Regions from separate parts of the Homo sapiens genome. Here region 1 is linked to region 2. Evidence: fine-mapped expression QTL. A gene starts in region 2. The other region holds a variant in brackets. All regions are shown on one strand. Distances are between the middles of the regions.

Evidence for each region. PIP is the estimated chance that this variant, and not a neighbour inherited with it, causes the effect.
Region 1: its variant is fine-mapped to the expression of SMIM1 in whole blood (INTERVAL, PIP above 0.99).

Annotation. Positions count from the first base shown.
Region 1 is chr1:3,854,763-3,866,638 of GRCh38, forward strand. It overlaps CEP104 (centrosomal protein 104), which reads right to left and starts at 2,449. Exons shown (of 22, transcript NM_014704.4): 1 at 2,127-2,449. DFFB (DNA fragmentation factor subunit beta) reads left to right here and starts at 2,714. Exons shown (of 7, transcript NM_004402.4): 1 at 2,714-2,955; 2 at 3,956-4,082; 3 at 11,050-11,238. The coding sequence starts at 2,842. RefSeq lists silencers at 2,116-2,615, 3,546-3,595 and an enhancer at 2,756-2,935. The variant C/T (reference allele first, on the strand shown) is at 6,284.
Region 2 is chr1:3,769,050-3,780,402 of GRCh38, forward strand. SMIM1 (small integral membrane protein 1 (Vel blood group)) reads left to right here and starts at 3,700. Exons shown (of 4, transcript NM_001288583.2): 1 at 3,700-3,739; 2 at 4,014-4,132; 3 at 6,250-6,434; 4 at 6,746-6,907. The coding sequence starts at 6,325. The coding sequence ends at 6,872. CCDC27 (coiled-coil domain containing 27) reads left to right here. Exons shown (of 12, transcript NM_152492.3): 11 at 734-838; 12 at 2,352-2,596. The coding sequence ends at 2,474. It overlaps LRRC47 (leucine rich repeat containing 47), which reads right to left. Exons shown (of 7, transcript NM_020710.3): 7 at 9,510-11,353. RefSeq lists enhancers at 2,083-2,761, 4,048-4,563, 4,564-5,079, 5,819-5,963, 6,112-6,627 and 1 more, a silencer at 3,107-3,986 and cis regulatory regions at 5,907-5,923, 5,915.

The DNA.
Region 1 (11,876 bases), 86 kb after region 2:
GCCACCATGCCAGGCCCCTTTCATCATCTTTCAGGGCAGGGCTTGTCACTCCCTATTCCACCTTGAAAATACCTCTTGTGCCCAGGCTGTTGGGTTCCAGTCTCCAAATTTTTTTTTTTTTTTTTTTGAGAGAGGGTCTCACTCTGTCACCCAGGCTGGAGTGCAGTGGCGTGATCGCGGCTCACTGCGACCTCTGCCTCCTGGGTTCAAGTGATTCTCCCGCCTCAGCCTCCCAAGTAGCTAGTATTACAGGTGCGCACCACCACACCCAGCTAATTTTTGTATTTTTAGTAGAGATGGGGTTTCACCATGTTGGCCAGGCTGGTCTCGAACTCCTGACCTTAGGTGATCCACCCGCCTCAGCCTCCCAAAGTGTTGGGATTACAGGCGTGGCCAATAAGCCCAGCCCCGATTTTTTTTTTTTTTTTTTTTTTAATACAGGTTCTCGCTCTGTTGCCCAGGCTGTACTGCTGCAGTGGCGTGATCATAGCTCACTGTAACCATGAACTCTCGGGCTCAAATGATCCTCTTGTCTCAGCCTCCTGAGCAGCTAGGACTACAGGCACATGCCACCATGCACAGCTACTTTTTTTTTTTTTTTTTGTAGGGATGGGGTTTCACTGTGTTGTCTAGGCTGGTCTTGAACTCCTCCCACCTTAGTGTCCCAAAGTGTTGGGATTACAGGCGTGAGCCGCCGAGCCTGGCTAGTCTCTGAACCTAACCAACACTCTCTGTTACGGCTCGAAGACATAAATATAGGACCTTTTCAGTCAAACAGAAGGGTGTTTCCAGTATGCTATACTGCCCCCAACAAATCTAAAACAAAGTACTGGCATTTAAGAACCAGCTAAGAGAAATGCACAGGGACTGTGGAGGCAATGCTATTACCTCAGTCTGGTATTTGAAAAGGATTCCTTTTTTAGTCTACCCCCTCCCAAAGACCTTCCAGTTGTACCCTAGGGTCCCCTCTGTGTAAACCTTCAAGTGTTACATAAGATACTTGGAATGTCACTGAAGGATGCCACTTTTAGGCTCTATAAAAATCACCATTAACAATTTGGGAAGAAGCAAAGCTCTGTTGAACATCCAGTTATTGGCTGGTCTTCCTCACCAGAGGCATGAGGGATCCCTGTTGTCCCAGGGGCAGCCATCGACATCCCGACAAATGCCAGAGTACATCTCTCCCCAGGCAGCGATGACTCCATGGCGGTCTCATCCCTCACTACACTTTTCCTAGTGCTGGCATGGTAAAAGGCAATTAACTATAAATTAAACGGAAACTCAGTGTAGCAACTTCCATTTTGTTACAAGACTAGGAAACAAAACTTGTCTCTGATTTTCTTTTTAAGAAGACTTTTAAGTGTGACTGCGCGCGGTGGCTCATGCCTGTAATCCCAGCACTTCGGGAGGCCGAGGAGGGCGTATTACTTGAGGTCAGGAGTTCGAGACCAGCCTGGCCAACATGGTGAAACCCCGTCTCTACTAAAAATAAAAAAATTAGTCGGGCTACTCGGGAGGCTGAGGCAGGAGAATCGCTTGAACCCGGGAGGCGGAGGCTGCAGTGAGCTGAGATCGTGCCATTGCACTCCAGCCTGGGCGACAGAGCGAGACCGTCTCAAAGGCTTATGGGTTTCTGATCAAGTCATCTTAGCGACTGAAAGGGCTTCAGAGAAATCTGAACTTAAGTGCAAACAAAACAAAACAAACTCCAAAACAAAAAACAACCAACCATCAGACTTTAATCTCTATAGGGACAGAGCAATTTTCCTCAAACTTTTGCTCAGCAGAACACATCTGAAACTGGCCCCCTATGTGCTACGCATCCAGAAGAGGAAAAGCCGGATCTGAAAACAATATTCCACGCTAAATGGGCCGTCCCGGCCGGGGCAGGCGGTCCCAGCACCCGTGCTGAGCTCCCCGGCATACGGCACGACGGGGCCGCGCCGGCTCTTCGGCGACAGCAAGGCCGGCATCTAACTCCACACCGTCCGCGCTTGCACCGCGCACCCAGGCTTCGTACCCAGCTCCCAGGTGGGGACCGCGCCCCCGCGGCGCCCGCGCCCCGCGCCCCGCGCCCCGCTCCCCACTCCGGCCCTGGGCCGGCGCCGCAGCGGCCCGGAAGGTACCTGCTTAGAGGGAAGGGCCCCGACTGGCGCTGCCGCGGCCCCGGTGGAGAGGGCGGCTGGGTCGGAGCGGTGCCGCGGCCCGGGGAGGCGGCCAGGCGGCGCCTCAGCACCCGGACCCCAGGGGCGTGCGGGACCCGGCTCTCGTGGACTTCCTCGGCAGCCGCCGCTTCCTCAGACGGAACTCGGGGGGCGCCCCTTCCGCCGCCCCAGGCCGCCTTGCACCCCAAGCTGCTGCGGCAGTGACAGGGAAGAAGCAGACCCGGCCACCTCTGCCCATAGCCCCGGCCGCAGCCTCCACTCTCATGACAACCAAGCCCAGCCCTGGGCCAGGGCCTCTGCGCGTGCGCGACCCCGCCCCACCCCAGGCCGCGCCTGCGCACAAGGGGAGGGCTCCGCTACTCTGGCCCTCAGGGTTGTGTAGTTTCCGGGGCCACGGCACCTGGGCACACCAGGTGGCGTCGCGCCTTTGCTTTCCTGAGCCTTCTGAGTAAGGTAATGTGGTGTCCGTGGGGCGACGCCTGCGCACAAGACCGCGTCGGGCCTCACTTTTCCCAGGCCTTCTGGGTAATGTAGTTTCCGGGATCGGCACCCGGCCTGTGCCAGCTTGCAGAGCTCACCAGGTGCAGACCCCTGCGGCCAGGGCGAGGACGGATCTGAGCAGCTGGGCAGCAGGTGCCACCGCCTGTGGGACCCAGAGGGCTTGAGGACATCTGCAATGCTCCAGAAGCCCAAGAGCGTGAAGCTGCGGGCCCTGCGCAGCCCGAGGAAGTTCGGCGTGGCTGGCCGGAGCTGCCAGGAGGTGCTGCGCAAGGGCTGTCTCCGCTTCCAGGTGCCCGCTGGGCTAGGCGGGGACGGCCCGTCGGGGAGGCGTGTGGGGAGAATAGGAGGTGCCGCTTTTCCTCTTCCAAAACGGAGGGTGCAGGCGGCGCCCGGGGCGGGTAGTTTTCGTTCGCCTCAGCCGCTAGGACCCCGGGCCCCCGCAGCCTGGGGTTCCTGAGCGTGGCTTCAGAACGCAGGGGGGTTGGGGGACGACCTGGATCACCCCTTCCCTCTTCCCACCTCTCGGGCAGGACAGCCCTGCATCAGAGCTAGGAGACCCGGGTAGAGTGCCAGGTACTGGCACGCGGGGTCACGGCTGCTCTGCCTGTCCGGCCTCAGCTTCCCCTTGAGTAACATGAAAGGCTTGGCTAGGTGGGCTCTGCAGGCCCCTTCCAGCCCTCGCAGCTGGGGATTGCAATCGTCACCTTATTCTAGGTTGGTTTTCTTTTTAGACCAGTACTAGGGTTACCAGGTGTGCATTGCCGGGGTCGGTGCGGGTGGGGTGGGAGTAGCCATAAAATGCCTAAAACTGACCAGTGCAGAGTAACAGGGAACCGGACTCCAACAAATTAACAGTGCCACGTGCCGGTCACACTTGTGCACAGAGGCAACCAACCGTTCTCCTTCGTGTGCCAGCACCGCTCTGGCGGCTGTGTGCTGGGGATGGTGGTGTTCAGCTCCTGGCAGCAGGGAGGCGGCGCTGTCAAAGACAGGCTCTATTTGAAGCGCCCTCAGGAGCTCATTTAAAAAGGGTGAATCCTGCAGAGCCAGCAGTCACCCCCTGATGTATGTTTTTCCTGACTCTTCGTATTTTAGAACGGCCCGCAGTCAGGCGCCCTTGCTCCCGCTCCCTCATCCTTGCCTGGGCGTTGGAGCGACTGTGGCATACAGGCGGCAGCCTGAGCCTGCTTCTTTAAGCACAGCTCATTCCGGTCGTTTGTGAGGCCTGCAGATGCAAAGCCCTCGTCTTGAGACCCTTCCTCCTCCTGTTGCTTCTCCCGTCCCTGCAGCTCCCTGAGCGCGGTTCCCGGCTGTGCCTGTACGAGGATGGCACGGAGCTGACGGAAGATTACTTCCCCAGTGTTCCCGACAACGCCGAGCTGGTGCTGCTCACCTTGGGCCAGGCCTGGCAGGGCTGTGAGTGGCAAGGACTTTGGAGGTGGGCGGGAAGCTGGCACTCTCCGAGGTCCTGGGGGCTTAGCTCCAGGTGCCCATCAGGGTGGGGAAGAGTCCCCCTTACTGTGAACTCTCGGGTCTCAAGGAGGAAGCCCTCTGGAGGCAGAACTGGTCAGCGTCGCTTAGGTGGCAGAGTCCTCAGTCCTCTCGTTCATGAACCCAGCTGTTCAATTGGTCGTCTTTTTCTTCAAAAAATCTTTTAATTTTATTTGCGTTCATTTGAGGTGTCCTAGCAATTCCCAAGAGCAGAGGGAGGGCTTTGGGGTTGGGGCCTGCACAGTTTCATGGGGAAGGTGGAGCCAGGAAGAGATGCTGTTCTGTTCTGCTGGGCTGAGCACCCTTCTGGAAGGACGAGGTGGTGGTTCGTGGGATGCTCTCACATTGTTCTCGGTTGGTGTTTGCTAAGATGCTGTCCTCAGGGCTCAAGTTTGGGGGCAATTGCTTTGAGAGGTGGTTCTTTCGGGGCATCTGTATTGAAGCCTCAGGACACAAAGTCCTGCCTTTCAGAACCAGCCGAATGCCAAGGTCTGCGCTTGTTTGACTCCCGTAAAAGAGAGCTTTTGGCCACTGGGGCAGGAGATGCCATCATGTGCCTTTACCTGGGAGGGTCGGCCAGTGTTGTGCAAATGGGGTCAGGCTCCAGGAGATGCTTCTGGCAGCCCAGGAAGGACATGGGTGCTCTGAGGGATGGAGCTGTGGCTCCTTGGCCTAAGGGGCAAAAAGAGAGAAGTCGAAGAGTAACATCCATGTGGCCACCTCCCCGGCTACAGTGTTGGGGGCTCCACTGTCAGCATTGAGGGGTGACGCCTCTGGTGTGTGCTCCAAGGTTGCAAACCCCCTTTCTCCACTGGGCCTTGTGCTTTTAGAGGAGGCAGCTGGAAAATGTATCACTGTGATGCCCCCTGGGGTGGCCCCTGCAGGAGGTGGGGGCTGGGCAGGGGTATGCTCAGGGTATGCCTCACCTTTGGATGTTATCTTTCTTTCCCATTTCAGGGCATAGTTGAAAGACAGCAGAGCACGTTGCTCTCTCTCTGTCTCTCCCTGCATCTCGCAGTCTCTGTCTCTCTCCTCTGTCTCTGTCTCTGGCTCTCTCTGTCTGTCTCTGTCTCTCTCTCTCTCTGTCCTTCCTTTCTCTGGCGCTTTATCCTCCTCTCTTCGCTGAGACCGCTAGTCCTCCTCCTTGTTAGACTTAAAAAAAATTTTTTTTCTTTTCTTTTATGAAAACATTGAGATGGGGTCTCCCTCTGTTGCACAGGCTGGCCTCAAACTCCTGGGCTCAAGAAGTCCTCCTACTTTGGCTTCCCAAAGTGCTGGGATTACAGGCATGAGCCACTGTGCCTGGCCAAAATATTTTTGTTTTATTTATATTTTGAAACTTTGTTGCCCAGGCTGGAGTGCAGTGGCACAAACCTTGCTCACTGTAGCCTCGACCTCCGTGTTTCAAGTGATCCCGTTGCCTCAGCCTCCCAAGTATCTGGGACCACAGGCATGCATTACCACGTCTGGCTAATTGTTTTGTATTTTTTGTAGAGATAGGGTTTCGCCATGTTTCCCAGGATAGTCTCACACTCCTGGGCTCAAGCTGTCCTCCTGCCTTGGTCTCCTAAAGTGCTGGGATTACAGGTATGAGCCACTGTGCCTGGCCTAAACCGTTTATTTAGAAATAATGACAGATTCCCAGGAAGTTGCACAGATAGGAAGGTCCAATGTACCTCTACCCTTTCCCTCAAAGGCAACATCAGATACAACCGTGGTACAATATAAAACAGGAACACCGACACTAGTGCAATGTGCATGTTGTTCTGTCATTTCTCCCCATGTAGATTCCTGTGACCAGCATCAGGGTCAAGGTACAGCCCTCTCCCATCCATCACTCAAGGTTCTCCCCTTTATAATCCTGCCTACCCCTGCCCACCAGCAATCCCTAGCCCGTAGCAACTGCTGATATGTTCTCCATGTCTATAATTTTGTCATTTAAAGAATATTAGGGGCCAGGTGCGGTGGCTTACACCTGTAATCCCAGCACTTTGGGAGGCCGAGGTGGGTGGATCACCTGAGATCAGGAGTTCAAGACCAGCCTGGGCAACATGGTGAAACCCCGTCTCTACTAAAAATACAAAAATTAGCTGGGCATGGTGGCGGGCGCTTGTAATCTCGCTACT[C/T]AGGAGGCTGAGGCAGGAGAATCGCTTGAGCCCAGCAGGTGGAGGTTGCAGTGAGCTGAGATTGTGCCATTGCACTCTAGCCTGGGTGACAGGCTGAGACTCCATCTCAAAAAAAAAAAAAAAAAGAATATTAGGTAAGTGGAATCATAAAGTATGTGACCTTTTGAGATGAGCCTTTTTCACTCCACATAAGGCTCCCGAGATGCATGTAAGTTGTGTGTATCCATAGTCCGTTCCTTTTCATTGCTGAGTAGCATTCCATGGTTTGGTTTTACCACAGTTTGTTCAACCATTCGCCTGTGGAAAGATATTTTGTTTGTTTCCAGTTTTTGACTATTACAAATGAAGCTGCTCTGGCCAATTATGTACAAGTTTTTCTTTTTTCTTTCTTGTTTTCTTTTGAGACAGGGTCTCACCCTGTCGCCCAGGCTGGAGTGCAGTGGTGCAATCATAGCTCACTCTAGCTTTCACTTCCTGGGCTCAAGCGATCCTCCTACCTCCGCCCCTGAGTAGCTGGGACTACAGGGGTGCACCACCATGCCTGGCTAATTTTTGTATTTTCTGTAGAAACAGGGCTTCATCATGTTGCCCAGGGTGGCCTATAACTCCTAGGCTCAAGCAATCTACCCGCCTTGGCCTCCCAAAGTGTTGGGATTACAGGCGTGAGCCACCGCACCTGGCCATCTTGACAGGTTTTTGCGAGATGTAGGTTTTCATGCCTCTGGGGAGAATGCCCAGGAGTACAGTGCTGCGTTGTGTGGTGTGTGTTTAGTTTCTGAAGACAAGGATGTCCACTCTTGCTGCTTCTGTTTAACATGGTACTGCAGGGTCTAGCCAGGACATTTAGGCAAGAAAAATAAAAAGCATCCAGATTGGAAAGGAAGAAGTGAAGCTATTTCTATTTGCAGATCATATGAACTTGTATGTAGAAAACCCTAAGGAATCCACTAAAAAGTGATTAGAACTAATCATCAAGTTTAGCAAGGTTGAAGGATATAAGATCATATGCAAATATAGAAATACACTTCCAACGAACAATCTGAAAATGAAGCAGAAAATCATCCCATTTACACTGGCATCAAAAAGAATAAAATACTTAGGATAAGTGTAACAAAAAATTGTAATACTTATATTCTGAAAACTGCAAAATGTTGTTGAAAGAAATTAAAGTTTTGAATAAATGGATTAACATCCCATGTTCATGGATTGGAAAACTTAACATTGTTAAGATGGTGGGACTCCCCAAACTGACCTACAAATTCAACACAATCCCTATGAAAATTCCAGCTGGTTTCATTGTAGAAATTGACATGCTGATTCTAATCCACAGTTCATATGGAATTGCAAGAGACCCAGAATAGCCAAAACGACTGTGAAAAAGAAGATAGTAGGAGGACCCACATATTCTGATTTCAAAACTTAGTACAAAGCCACAGTAATCAAGACTGACACTGGTACAAGGACAGATATATAGATCAATGGAATAGAACAGAGCACCCAGAAATCTATGTATCTGTGGTCAGGATGCCAGGACCATTCAACGGAGGGGGAAGAGTAGTATCTTCAACAGATAGTGCTGGGACAACTGTATATTCACATACAAAAGAATGAAGTTGGACTCTTAGCTGGTACCTTATACAAAAAGTACAATAAATGAAAGACCTAAATGTAAAAGTTAAAAATATAAAGCCCTTAGAAGAAAACATAGCGATAAGTCCTCATCGCCTTGGATTTGGCAAAAGATTCTTAGATTTGACACCAAAAACATGAGCAGCAGAAGAAAAAACAGATAAATTGGGCTTCATCAACATTAAGAACTCTGGCCCGGGCACGGTGGCTCAAGCCTGTAATCCCAGCACTTTGGGAGGCCGAGACGGGCAGATCACTTGAGGTCAGGAGTTGAGACAAGCCTGGCCAACATGGTGAAACCCCGTCTCTACTAAAAATACAAAAATTAGCCGGGCGTGGTGGCAGGCGCCTGTAATTCCAGCTACTCAGGAGGCTGAGGCAGGAGAATTGCTTGAACCGGGGAGGTGGAGGCTGCAGTGAACGACAGCCCACAGAATAGGACAAAATAGTTGCCAATCATGTATCTAATACGGGACTTGCATCAGAATATATAAAGAATCCTTATAACTTAATAGTAAAAAGATAACCCAATTAAACATGGGCAAAGGTTCTGAAAAGAAAGAAATGTCTCCAAGGAAGATATTCAAGTGGTCGTAAGCACAGGAAAAGGTGCTTGAGATCATCAGTCGTCAGGGAACTGCAAATCAAAACCACAGTGAGATGCTACTTCACACCCACTAGGATAACAACCAGTGTGGGCGAGGATGCAGAGCGGCTGGAACCCTCAGGCCCCATTGATGGGAAGGGAAAACGGTGCAGCTGCTGTGGAAAATAGTCTGGCAGTTTCTCAACAATTACACAGAATCGCCATGTGACCCAGCAGCTCCACTCCTAGGTATGTACCCAAGAGAAATGAAAACACGTCCACACCAAAACTCGTCCGTGAGCGTTTACAGTAGCTTTATTCATAATAGCCAAAAGGTAGAAACCACCTAAGTCTCCAATGATGAACACTTGGATCAATAGAGTGTGGCACATCCATACAATGGAAGTACTCACCATGAAGAGGAATGAAACACAGCATGGCCGAGCCTTGAAACCATGCCAAGTCAAGAAGCCTGCACATACAGTAGGGTTCCATTCATAGGAAATACCCAGAACGGGGATGTTAGAGAGATGGAAAATAGATTAGTGGTTGTTTAGGGTTGGGGGTAGGGTAGAGGGGAGGGAGGTTGGTAGCTAAAGAGTATGAGGTTTCTTTTTGAGGTGGTGAAAATGTTCTGAAATTGACTGTGGATGTGGCTGCACAACTCTGGGAATATAATAAAACCCATTGTATTGTACACTTTATTTATTTTATTTATTTTTTTTGAGATGAAGTCTTGCTCTCTCCCCAGGCTGGAGTACAGTGGCGCGATCTCGGCTCACTGCAACCTCTGCCTCCTGGGTTCAAGCGATTCTCTTGCCTCAGCCTCCCGAGTAGCTGGGGTTACAGGCATGCACCACTGCGCCCAGCTAATTTTTGTATTTTTAGTAGAGACAGGGTTTCACCATGTTGGCCAGGATGGTCGCGATCTCCTGACCTTGTGATCTGCCTGCCTCGGCCTCCGAAAGTGCTGGGATTACAGGCGTGAGCCACCGCGCCCGGCCTCTGAATTGTACACTTTAAATGGGTGAATTATAAGGAGTGTGAATTATATTTCAATAAAGCTACTTAAAATAAAGAAAAGAAACTGCCAAGTTGTGTGCTAGAGTGGCCGTCTTACCTTTCCACTGCGCAGTTTCTGTGCAGCCTCGCCAGCTTTCGGCGCTGTTGCTGTTTTTAATTTTAGCCATTCTGATTGCAGTGTGGTGATGTCTCGTTGTGCCCTTAATATGCATTTCCCTAATGGCTAACAATGCTGACTATCTGAATATCTTTTATAAAAACAGAGACAGGGTCTCACTCTGTTGCCCACGTTGGAGTGCAGTGGCAATCATGGCTCACTGCAACCCTGAACTCCTGGGCTCAAGCGATCCTCCTACCTCAGCCTCCCAAGTAACTGGGACTACAGGTGTGCACCCCCATGTGCCGCTAATTATTATGATTTTTTTTAGAGATGGGGGTCTTGCTTTTTTTTTTAGAGATGGGGTCTTGGTTGCCAGGTTGGTCTCAAACTCCTGCCCTTAAGTGATTCTCCCACCTCGGTCTCTGAAAGTGCTGGGATTACAGGCGTGAGCCACCGCGCCCAGCCCTAAATATCTTCTTATGTGCTTATTTGCCATCTGTAGATTCTCCTTGGTGAAGTGTTTCTTCCTGTCTCTTGTCCTTTTTCTAATTGGCTTATTTATCTATTTTTTTACTGTTGAGTTTTGAAAGTCACGCCTCACCCCACAAACAAAATACCTGGACATGAGTTCTTTGTCAGACATGTGGTTTGCAAATATTTACCCTGTGGCTTTTCATTCTCTTAAGAGCATTTTTTTTTTTGCGGAGTAAGAGTTTTTAGTTTTGAGGAAGCTCAGTGTGTTGATTTTCTCTTTTACGCAGTGCTTTTGATGTTAGGTCTAAGGACTTCCACCAAGTCCTCACTCCCCAGCATGTCCTCCTGTCTTCTTCTGACCCACTGATGTGATCGTGAGGCTTTTCTCATATGGTGGATCGCACTGATCGATTTGCAGGTGTGAACCAGCCTTGCGTTCCCACTTGGCCGTGGTGATATTTCTTTGTGCATGTTACTGAGTTCTCTTTGCTAACATTTTGTTAAGGTCCTGGGTAGACTTTGCTTTAACTTCCTATTAAGAGCCTGCCCGGAGAGCTCGCTGCTTTAGGGAGTTGTGAAAAGGCTCCAGGAGAGAGTAGGAAAAGTGATCGGAAGGATCTGAAAGCAAGGTCTCCAGGAAGGGCCAAAGTGGGGGGCGTATGGTTTGGAGGGGAGGAGGCCAAATGGGAAAGCGGCCGTCTCTTGGTGCGCTTTCATCTGTCCTCTAAAGCACACCCTGCCCCTCCCTCCTCTGTCCTCATGCCGCCCTTGTGCGTGGTCCCCAGCTGTTGGTGTCAGGGCAAGGACAAAGACCCGGGACACCTCAAGTCTGAGTCCTGGTGATTGCCAGGCCCTGGGGAATGGGGGAAGATGTGGTCAGAGGCTCTTCTTGTGACCGGGGCAGGATGTGTCTTCTGCTGGACCGGCACCTTTTGTTTGTCCCATTGGTGGCAGATGTGAGCGACATCAGGCGCTTCCTCAGTGCATTTCACGAGCCACAGGTGGGGCTCATCCAGGCCGCCCAGCAGCTGCTGTGTGATGAGCAGGCCCCACAGAGGCAGAGGCTGCTGGCTGACCTCCTGCACAACGTCAGCCAGAACATCGCGGCCGAGACCCGGGCTGAGGACCCGCCGTGGTTTGAAGGTGCGTGGGGGCTGCAGCTGGCAGGGGAGAGGCTTCTTTGGAGCCTGAGGTGCCAGAAGAAGTTGGATTCCAAAAAGCCCCCAGTGAAGGGCTGGCCTGTACCCTCGTGGGTTGAGGTGGGGGACTTGGAAGAAAATGTGCTCATTTCCCAGCATTTCCCAGCCTCGTGGGAAAGGTACCCAGCAAGGACTCAGGTGGGGCCAGAGTCCAGGGCAGCCCTCGGATGGGACTTTTTATATTTTTATAGATATGTTTTGAGATGGAGTCTTGCTCTGTCCCCCAGGCTGGAGTGCAGTGGCGTGATCTTGGCTCACCGCAACCTCTGCCTCCCTGCACCCTCTGCCTCCCAGGTTAAAGCGATTCTCCTGCCTCAGCCTCCCGAGTAGCTGGGATTACAGGCAAGTGCAACCACGCCCTGCCAATTTTTGTATTTTTAGTAGAGATGAGGTTTCGCCATGTTGGCCAGGCTGGTCTCAAACTTCTGATCTCAGCCTCCCAAAGTGCTAGGATTACAGGCGGGAGCCACCCCGCCTGGCCTATTATAATTATTTTAAAAATTGTGCTAAAGTACATATGACATAAAATTTACCTTCTCAATCATTTTTTTAGTGCACAGGTCATCGGCATTAGGTACAGTC
Region 2 (11,353 bases):
CACCTCTGCGTCGTCAGGGTTTCTGGACGAGGAACTCGTGCTGAGCGTGCCGCATAACTCAAGGGGTTCCTGTCTGAGGCTCCTGGGGTGCAGATTGGAGGGGTTTCCTCTGCAGCTTCCTGGGAGGCACGATTAGCTACCTCTGGGGAGGCGGCTGCGGGTGTACAGGCAGACAAGGATCTTCATGGCAGCAGAAGACGAGAACGCCTTCTGGGTCTGTGCGCGGGGGCCAGGTTCAACGCTGCTGTCCATGGCACAGACACCTCCTAGTCAGCATGGAAAGGAGGAAGCACCAGCAGCGCACTGTTAAATGCCTAAAGTGAGAGTGTCCCCAAGGGCCAGGAAGTCCGCTCACTGCAGCTCCCCTGGGCAGTGGAGGATGGTCCAGGGGTTACGTGCGGCTTCTGTACTATTTTGGTTTGTTGGTTTAAAAATATATATATATGTGTGTGTAGGTTTTACTTTCCAATTAGAAAAGCCCACCTGGTGTAGGAGAGTCTTTGGGCTTTGGGGCTGGGCCGCACAGGGTCAGGGGTTGGATCCGGCACCTCCTAGCTCTCAGACAATCCACATTGACTTCTCTGACACCTGTTTCCAGTTTCTAAAGCCATGAAAAGTGAGGGTGAGCTGTTCCTTCCTGGTACATAAAAAATAAGGTGGTGGGGGGTGCAGCCCACTGGCCAGGTGCCTTCTTGGGTAAAGGCGAATGATAGTGTTGTCCCTTTGCTCACAGCTCGAGAGGTTAAGGAATAAGATCATCCAGGCCACCTTTAGCATCTCCGGGACCAAGTCCTTGGCCAACGAGATCTCTGACAATGACATCCTGGAAGCCCTGCAGGTATACCCCTAAGCTCAGCTGCCTCTATCCGGGCCCCAGACCCCCAGGCCAGAGCTGTGGTAGGGGGTTGTGGGGGGCCTAGATTCCAGGGACTCTGTTCTCATCCTACCTGTGTCACCTATTCACTTGGACCCCAGGACCCTCCTTTCTCTCAGCTCAGGCAGAGGGGATCAAATCATCCTAAGGCAGGTGGGGGCATGGCACGGGAGTCTTAGCTACTCTCAGCAAAACGGGGGACGGGCATCAGAGACCAGCAGTAACTGCCACAACCCATCCTGAGCGCTGTGGAGAGGGGACAAGCCGCTCAGGGCACGAAGATTCTCCCACAGCAGGAGCCCAGCCCCGGCTTTGTCCAGCTTGGTCCCCTCCGCTGGTATCACCACCCACTGATCCAGGGCCCTGGTGCAGACCCCTCCCACCCCGGCCACAGCCTCCTGGGCTCCTTCCTGACCAGGGGTCCCCAAGCAAGGGCCTCGGAGAAGTAGAGGGGTGTAGGAGAATTCAGGCCTTGGGGTCACTGGGCATGAGGGGGTCACCACCCACCAGCTGGGGGCCACACACTCACTTTTCTGAGCCATAGATGCCTCCCTCTGTGATGGACAGCGCATGCTCACCTGCAAGGTGTCGTAAGACTCAGAGCTCTGGGAGCCGGGCACCGGCTATGGCTCTGTGTGGGGCTGTGTACTACGAAGGGGTCACCTCTCACCAGGAGCTGCTTTTGTTCCCAAGACCCACACTTCACCCTCTGGGGCTGCCCTTGAACCCCAGTGTGTGCCCCTGACCTTCCAGCACCCACGTTCCTGGGGCCTGGTTCCCTTCCTCTGCAGAGTGGGGGGCCCTGGACAGTGCCTCTCCTGCAGAGCTGTAATGTGGAGAGAGGTCTCTGCGGCCTTGGTACTGTTGTCTGGGGGAGGGGAGGAGGAAGGGGAGAGAAAGAGGAAGAGAAGAGGGAAGACAGAGGATGGAGGGAGTTATTCCCACCGCACAGTAGCCAGGGAAGAGCACCTTTGCTTGCTTGCCATAGCCTGACATGAACCAGCAACGGCCCAGAGAGGAGAATGGAAGAGAGGTGGGGACAACATTCCCTCTGTACAGGACAGAAGGGACTTGAGGGACAGATGTGACGACCTCAAAGATCTCTAGGAGTCTGGGGCTCCTCACAACTCTAAGAGGGCTGAAGAGGGGGCTTAGTGCAGGCTTCTGCGGGCTGGTGGTGTGCACCTGCCCCCGGCTCCGCATTCTGTGACTTCACTTCCGTGGCTGAAAATCAGCCACTGTGGGAATATTCCCACCACAGAAACTGGCAACGCCACAAAGCCGAGGGTTGTTTGTTTTTTCTCCCCCTGGAGAGCCGGTTGTAAGTATTCACCAGCACACCCCTGCTGCAGCAAGCCTCTCTGGAGGAGGAGGAGAGGGTGGCGTCCCGGGCAGCTGGCACGGACTGTGCAGACCGGCCTCAAGGCCAAGGTGAGGAACTGGGAAGGCCACCTCGACGGCTGTGTTTCTTGTGTAGAGAATTATCTCAGAGAGAAGCGACTACTATAATCAGCTGAAGCAGAAAGGCGTCAAAGTGCCCCCCCTGCAACAGTCAGAGGCCTTCCTGACCAGCAAATCCAAGAAGGGGACCTCCAAGTAGGCCCAGCCAGGCCCCCAAATACGGTCAGCCCAGCAGAGGCCGGGGCCCAGCTCCAGAACCACCCGCCCCCACCATGCGTCCTGCTCTCAGACTCAGAATTAAACCCCGGTGTTGGCACTGTCCCACCTTTTTCTTCTCTGGGATCCACGCGGGGGCCTACTCTCCTCTGCGACCTTGAGCTACAAGGACACTCCCCATTCCAAAGCTCACTCACAGGGAGTCAGCACACCAGCCTGTGCCCCTAGCTCCTAACAGGTCCCCTTGCGGCACCAGGCTGCCAGAGGCCTGAGCCGGGGTGTCCGCCCAGCACTCAGCACAGACCTCACGCCTGAGCAGAAGGGGTCTGTGACCTTCTGCCCTGGGGGCTCTCCTGGCTGGGGCACTCTCTTGCTGGAGGACCCCTCTGGAAGATGGTGAGGGTGGGGGGCTCTGTTCCCATCCCCCCGCTCCTGGAAGGAAAGCTTTACGCACGGGAACGGTGTCTGTGGTCCCCGACGCTTCCCCGGCGCCTCTGAGGCTCTGGGCGCCTGAACACCTTCGGAAGGGACTCTCCCCATTACCCTTCTCTGCTCCCCACCCACACCTGCTTCCCTTCCCGCCGCGAGCACCGAGCGTGGGCCACGTGCGGGCGCCACGCCCCTCAAGCCCCGGAGGAGGACGGTCCCCGCGGCCGGGTCCCCGAACCCAGCATTCAGGCCCAGACGCGCCCAGAGCCTCCCGCAGTCTCGTCGGCGCTGCAGCCGGGTCCCCGCGGGGCTGGGAGGCTCGTGGCGTCGGAGGGGCTCCAGCAGGGGTGAAGGAGGTCGGGGACCCTGGAGGCCCCAAGGGCGAGCCGTCTGGGGGCAGAAAGTGCAGCCCTCTGCAGACCCTGCCCGGCCCCCCTGCACCTCCTGGCCCCGGGGCTGGGCGGCCTAGAGCCCCGGCCCCTTCCGGACGAGGCGTCTCCCGGCCCCACTCGCCCCGCCCCCAGCCCCTTCTGGACCAGGCGCCTCCCCGCTGCGGCCCTAGCCCTTCCCCGCATGGCCCCGCCCCCCTCTCGCCCCGCCCCCTCTCGCCCCGCCCCCGGCCCCTTCTGGACCAGGCGCCTCCCCGCTACTGGCCCCAGACCTTCCCCGCATGGCCCCGCCCACCACTCTAGCCCCGCCACCTTCCGGACCAGACACCTCCCCGCTGCTGGCTCCAGCCCTTCCCCGCGTGGCCCCGCCCCCGCCCTCGCCCCCTGCCCAGGCCCGGCCCCTGCGGAGCCCAGAGACGCGGGGACACAGGTGAGGCGCGCGGGGTCCGGGCTGCGGCTTCCCGGTGCGGCCGCAGTGGGCAGGTGCGACTGTGCGCGGCCTCGCTGGCTGAGAACTGGCGGGGGTGGGGGCGTGCCCTGGACTGACCCCCACCGGCCTAACCCGCGGTGCGGGGCCAGGGCCGGAACTGCCCGCCCGGCTCCTTGCCCGGCTCCTTGTGGCTGCTGGGGACCCCCGACACCAGCCACTTTCCCTTCCCGGCCCTTAGCAAGATCGGCTTCTCCGGTCACCTTTATTTTTTTAGGCTCGAGGCGTCTGCCGCACCTCAGCCCACGACCTGCCCCGCTGGGAGGTGCGGGCCGCTGGCCAGGCCCTGACCGCAACCTGGCCCAGAGGCCCCAGCCCTCAGGCAAGGTTCTCCGGGTAAGTGTGGGGCCCTGAGGCGCTGTGGGGTGAAGAGGTCTATGGAGGGGCGCCTGTGTACCTAGGGCCTTCCTGCACTCACAAGCCCCCAGGAGGTGCCAGGATCCGGGAGCCTCCCAGGGCCTGGAGGGGAGTCCCTGATGGGTTCCTGCCGCCACACCTGTGACCATCACATGAGTGTGGAGAGACGTTTACTGAGCAAGTGAGGGAGGCCAGCCTCAAGGGCCGGCTCTGGTGGCTGTGCACCGGGGTGACTTGGGAACAACGTGTTCTACGTCAGCAAGACAGGAACCCATGATCCCAGAGTTGAACACACTGGGCTTGACCCCTCCCACCGGGAGGCCCATGGTGGGCTGCTGCTGTGGACTTGGAGCCTCAGCACTCCCGAGACTAATGCTGCGTGGATGTCGGGTTGCAAGGCGGCTGCTGCAGCTCCAGCAGCTCCAGCCATCACGTCGAGTCTGGAAGAAGGAGGTGGCTGCTGCTGCTTTCACAGAAGCAAACTCTCCCATCCCCTGCTGCACCCTGGCTCCTGGACCCCAGCTGGGTGACTTGGGAAAGCAGGGGTGGTGGTATTAAGCTTGTCTTACCCGGGTCATGGCTGTTACCTGGGGCTGGCACATTGCTGCTGGGACCAGAATGGGATTCTGCACACCAGGCAAGAGGGCGTGAACCTCGGGTAGGCAGCTGACCGCTCCACATGCTCCGGGAAAACAGCACCCATACTCCAGTAGAGGCTGGGCCTCTCCGGGCCTGAGTGCCAGGCTGCACTGAGCCAGGGCTCCCACCGAAGGCACACTTTATGGCTTTGAGACAGCTCCTTCTGCCTCTCTGGGCTTTGGGGGAAGGCAGACATGGAAGTGCCGGGAGTCTCAGAACTGCCTGGGGCCTGAGTTTCTGAGCTGGCTTCTTGCAGGGGAGTGGCTGCTGTGCCTTTAGGCCTCTGTGCCGATGACCTGGGAGGAAGGTCAGCCTTCCCCGCTGGAGGGGGCCCAGCAAAGCCTCAGCTCCTAGAAGTGAGGGGCCTGCCATTGCCTGCCCGAGGACCCCACTCCTGGGGGCCAGATGCTGAGAGGGGACACTGGGGGCCCAGCAGACCAGAGAGCTGACCCCAGTCCCACAGCCTGGGTGGGTTGTCAACTTCTCGTGCCCCCTCCAACTCCTCCACCCCCACACCCCCTTAGGTAAATAGGAGGTCGAAACAGAGGCCAGAGGGTAAAGGAGGTGCTTAGAGTCCGGGCTGGCTCAGGCCGGCCGGGCAGCTGTGCTAGTGCTTGGAGTTCCTGCTCAGTCCCCGTGGTCTCCTCGCCCCTCTGGGCACTTGGGCTGCCAGGCACCGAGCTGAGTGCCGAGATGCAAAGATGAGTCCCAGGTCTGCAGGAGTTGGAGCCCAGCAGGGAGCTGGCCTTGGGGCCGGGCCCCTCCTGCTCTGGGCAGCCACCCAGCCCTACGACCCTCCTGTCTCTGTAGGGCCTCCCCAAGGCCTTGAATCCACCCCGGCCCCGTGCTCAGTGCATCATGCCCCCCAAGCCCCAGCCCTCCTAGAGGTGTGGGTGGGGGAGGGGCTGCAACCCACACAGGCTGAGGACACAGCTGCTGCCACTGCCTGGGGCCAGCCACGCATCCTCCCCAGACAGGGACCGGTCTAGCTGTACCAGCCGCTGCCCCGGACCTGCTGCCCTGCCCCACCCCCCCCTCCCCTGGCCAGCCTCCCCAGAGGCCAGAAGGCGCCTTATCGGGCAGGGTTAAGGAGGGGGACAGTTATCAGGGGCTGCAGCCTAGATTGGGCCACAATGTCCTCGTCTCTTGAGGGTGGCAGGCTGTGCAGGCTCCCTGATAAAAGCACCGGGGAAGGGAGGCTCCTGGAGTGTGCTGGAAGGAAACACTGGCCTCCCACATGCCTGAGGTCAGGGCTTGGCCTGAGATGGAATTCTCGCTTGGTCCCATCCTCCCGGCCTGACCCTGGGCAAATGACTCTACCACTTTGTGTCTAGGTCACCTGTTAAGTCAGGCGACAGACCCGGTGAGGGAGTCAGCCCCCGACCCTTAGTGCCCCTCTCCTAACAGCAGCCTCAGAGGGGGTCTTGACTGCCGCCCTCCATCCGCTTGTTTTACAGTGAAGCCACAGCCTGGCCACCTGTCTTGATCTCCCCACCGAGAAGGCCCCGCCCCTCCCGCTGCAGCCCCACAGCATGCAGCCCCAGGAGAGCCACGTCCACTATAGTAGGTGGGAGGACGGCAGCAGGGACGGAGTCAGCCTAGGGGCTGTGTCCAGCACAGAAGAGGCCTCACGCTGCCGCAGGTGAGGGGCCTGAGGGCAGCCTGCCAGCCATAGCAGGCTGGTGTCTCCCTCCAGAGACGCCTGCCCTAACCCCTGCTACCGGCCCCATCACCCTCCACCCCATCCTGGCTGGGAGCCCACGGTCCAGCAGCTCAGCAAACCGCAGCCTTTGGCCTTCCCTCTGGTTGGCTGTGGGCGGGGAGAGCTTCCTCTTGACTCCAGCAGAGCGCCCAGGCCCCTCCCCCTGACCCAGACCAACGGCCACAGTCCACTTAGGGGGCCCCTCATGCGGCCCTGGCCTGGGGCTCACCTCCAGTTGGTTCTCACCCCAGGATCTCCCAGAGGCTGTGCACGGGCAAGCTGGGCATCGCCATGAAGGTGCTGGGCGGCGTGGCCCTCTTCTGGATCATCTTCATCCTGGGCTACCTCACAGGCTACTATGTGCACAAGTGCAAATAAATGCTGCCCCGCATGCACGCGGGGGGCTGGCCGCACACGTGAGAGCACAGGCCTGGAGACACACCCCTTGTACACATGGACCCCCCCACAGACACGGACCCTGCGGCACACACAGCGCACAGGGCACACGCGCTGGCAGCCAGGCACACGAAGACACCAGGTGCACAGCTGTCATCGGCCCCACACGGGGGCGCACAAACACCTGGCACACAGCCCTTCAAAGGACCTACAAACAGCTGGGCACACGTGGCTGGGAGGCCTGGGCCCAGCCTCAGCAGGAGCTGCAGGACACACCCAGGCTGGGCCCTGCGGCCTGGAGCCCCCAGCTACAGCCTCCTCTCTCCCAGGGCCCAGCCCCTTCCCTTGTGAAGGCCAGGATGAGGGGTTCCTTCAGCGGACAAACCGAGCCCACCTCCCTGGCAGCCCCCCGGGGTGGGATCCTCCCGGCTGCTTTCCTCCGTGGGAGCAGTGTGCAGAGCTGTGTGGCCCTGGGCAGGCCCCTGTCCTCTCTGGGCCTTTCTGACTCCTGGTTTTGTAAGGGTGGCTATGTGTCCCCCGCCCTTGTCTCAGATGCACCATATCTTCCTTAGTAAGTGGGCACAGTTCTTCCTAGGCAGCCCACCACGCGCAGAGGCTGGGTGTGTCCCTCTTGGGGCCGGCGGCTGCCAGGGAGGACCCGGGTCTACCCTCCCTCCCCAGGGATGGGCCTGGTCCCTCCAAGTACTCCTTGTGGGCCAAGAGCCTGTGTACAGAGGCATTAAGTGTCTGTTGAATGAACGGTGGATGACAGCCCTTGCCATAGTTACCTGGCCAGGCGTGACATCCAGGAAGGCTGTGGGAAGGGCTTGTTTCCCCGGGGCAGGCCCCCCTCCCATGTGGCTCTAGGAATGCACCCCTACCAATTGGGCCCTCTGGCGAGGACAGCCGGCAGGCCTGGGGACCCGGATGTGGCTGGACCTCAGCTGTGTCCCAGGGACTTCGGTCCCATTCCCCCCACCCCGATCCTGGCCTCCAGTCCCAGCCCCCGGTCCCAACCTCCATTCTCTTGGTAGGTGCTTTCCTGGGTCTTGTGTTTGGCCCTCACCTACCACAAAAGATCCCAAAAAGCCTTGCCAGAAACATCCCCTTAGGGAAGGGGTCCTCACCCCAGGGCTGGGGGTGGGAGACACGGGCAGCCACTATCCTCACGGGCACAGAGAAGGGAGGCCACAGGGCCAGATGAGGTTATTGGAGGGCTGAGGCTGCGCCTGCCCCAGGCCAGGTCCCGCCGAAAGCATCAAGTCAGGTAAACAGGAGGGGCTGCGCCAGTCTTGGTAGGGAGGCAGACTCCACATCATCCGCCTTTGGGGCGAGCAGGCTCACTTGAGATCTGCCTGGGCCAGCCGGTGGCAGGTGGAGCTGCATGGCTGATTGCACACTGCCCCAAGGCTCCTGGCTCCAAACCCAAGGAGGGAGCCCAAGGGCCTGTCCTGGGCTGCGGTCTGAAGCAATGATGCTTTCCTGGGAGCCTGTTGTTGGGTGGGCTGCTGCCTGCCCCAGCCCCATGACAGCCTGGATCTTCAAAAAGAGATCCCTACCTCTGACCTGCCACTCCCAAGGAGGGAAAGGAGTAGCCAGCTGGTACCCTCCCTGAAGCCCAGCTTCACAGGACAGCACTGCCTTGGGGCTGCTGTAAGGAAGTGGCAGAGGCCGCTGGGCCCAGCAGTTTGGCTGCATGGGCCCCAGAAGGCAGCACTCCGACCTGGGGGTCCTGGGGCTGGGCCTCCCCAAGAACTGGTGCGGCCCAGGAGACAGGCGAGGGCACAGGATGGGGATGGGAGCTGTCCCAGTTCTACAGTCAGAGGGGAAGTGGCCCTGGTGCTTCTGCCACGGGTCCCGCATGCCAGTGATGCCCACGCACCCCCACAAATGCTCCTTCCCACCTGTCAGGGGCTGGCATCAGATGGCACAGGCGCATGTCGGGTCTGCCCTGGATCTGTCTGGCTGCATCTGGGTCCGCCCTGGCAGGGGCCCAGCATCTTCAGCCAGGGGCTCCACCAGCAGCCCTGCCAGCCCCAGCAGGGGAGGCTACAGGCAGACACCCACGGGTGCTCATTGGGCCAGGCACTCAAGTAACCCACAGCCGCCTCTCGGGCACACCACTTGTCCCCTAAGTGACCATGGTGGAGACAGCAGCTCCAGCCCCAGTACCCCCAGGGTCATGGACCTAGGCTGAGCTGAGCAGTGTCCTTACAGCTCTGGGAGGGTTGGGGAGAGGATGGGACAGGACCCTGCTGAGTGGCCGCCTGGCCTACCCTCCCAGAGACTCACGAACAGGAGGATCTGCTGTGGATGCGTCTGGGGCCTGGGCTCCTCTGACTGTGCACCTGGGGTATCCAGGCAGCCCGACACCTCTGGTCCACCTTGTGCTCCAGGCAGGGGCCCAGCAGGGTGAGGCCAGTTCCCAGGACCCCTGGTCAAGGGCACCAGCTTCCCCATGACAGTGGCAGGTGCCTCTTGCTCCCTGCTGGCAAGATCTGGGTGGGGACAGGAGGCCCTCAGCCTCCCCACATAGAAGCCACCACTGGGCTAGAGTGAGCTTTGTGACACTTCGAGCAACAACCTCTGGCAGTGCCGGTGGGAAAGGATCTGCTGGGCCAGGTGCGGAGCTGTTTTTATTAGTGAGTCGGGGGGTGGGGTGGGGTGAAGAAAACATCAGAGACACCTGTGCTGCGAGTTAAATACATTTCCAGCATCTCACGCATCACAAGCTGCATCAGGAAAGGGCACAGCATGTGGCAGCCTCATCCACACCCACGCAGTGACAGATGTGTTACAGCATGGACACCAAGTCCCCGGGAGCCAAGATGGCAGCTCCAGCATCCCTCCCTTCCTCCCTTCCTCCTTCCCGGGCTGGGCCGGGCCATGCAGAGAAAGGGCAGCCTCTGCCATGGCAGCCCCAAATCACCTCTCAGAGCAACTGTCTGGGGTCCCCAGCCCCAGAACTCCAGCAGAGTCCTGGCCTGGGGAAGCCCCCGTGCCGCCTCAAGCCTCCAGCAGGGCAGGCCCCTGGCCAACTGTGGCATCTGCCTTGACTGCCCAGAGCAGCAGGAATCAGGTTTTGGGAGGACACAAGGCAAGGCAGTCATCTGACACACCCACGGCAGTCCAGCTGGCACTGAGTGTGTGGGCCTCGTCCTGTCTGGAGTCCCCTCCCTCCCACAGTGGGCGAGACGGGAAGGCCTGGCGGTGACCAGACAAGTGGGTCCAGGTCTCAAGGCAGCCTGGCCCATGTCCTGCAAGGCTCTGAAGAGCCACCCAGCTGTTAGTCTGCCCACTGCACAGGGCCCCGGGCCTCTCAGGTTGACAACTAAAGGTGTGTGGGCTGTGGGGCTCTTGCAGATGCTTCCCAAAATCACCAGTCATTTCTACAGACACAGAAATCGAGACACTGAACAGAGAACAAATGGTGTCATTCGATAAAGCTGATGAGTCTGCTTCTCACATGGCACCCAGATCGTAAGGCAGTGGGGTCTGTAAAATCATCGCGGTGGCTGGCCGTGTCCTCATGAGCCAAGCACACTGACTCCCGGGAGTGGTGTGCACGCACATGTGGTGCCTGGACATACACGAAGACACATGGACGTGGGGGTCTGACCTGGACATTCACAACGGAAACGTCTACAACAGAAGGCGCCCAGGACCCACCTTTCTGGCGCATAAATGAAGATTTTTGGCTCAAAAACCTAAGCATCCTCCAGCTTTTGCTACCATCTGTCCCTCGGCTGGCTGAGGACTGCCGATGCTTCCCAAGCAGAGGCGTCTGGTCCACTCCTGGGGCTCCACCTGCCTGTCACTGCAGCACCAGCGTGCACACGATGGAAACCCCACCGATGCCGCTCTCCTCCGCTTGGCCCCGCTGAGCCAGGGTGAGGTGCTGCCACTGCCTTCAGCCTACAGGCTGCTTGCCTGAAGGGGTCTCCACATCTCCACCCCCACAAAGCAATCCAACAGCAGTATGAAGAGACGCAATTCTGCCAATTCTAAGGTCACATTAAAACTTTTCCCCCCAAGATTATGATCACTGCCAGCTGGAGAACCCAACGCCCTTGCACATGCCAAGCTGCATCCTGGCATGATATGGTTTTACAAGATGCTGCGTCATAGAAAGTGACCGTGCCGTTCAAGGAAACGCACATCGGTTGGCTTCCCAAGTTTTCGGGTCTCCGAACCAGTGACAGTCACGTGTCGCTCAGTGACACATGAGAAACGTGTGCTTAGCCGCTGCTGTGTGATCACAGAGTCTTTACACAAGCCTCGATGGTGCATGTAGTTTTATTTATGTGTTTTCATCTGGAAAACCAAGTGTCCCAGCAGCATGACTGAACATCACTCACTTCCCCTACTTGATCTACAAGGCCAACGACGAGAGCCCAGACCAGGATTCCAAACACACTGCACGAGAATATTGTGGATCCGCTGTCAGGTAAGTGTCCGTCACT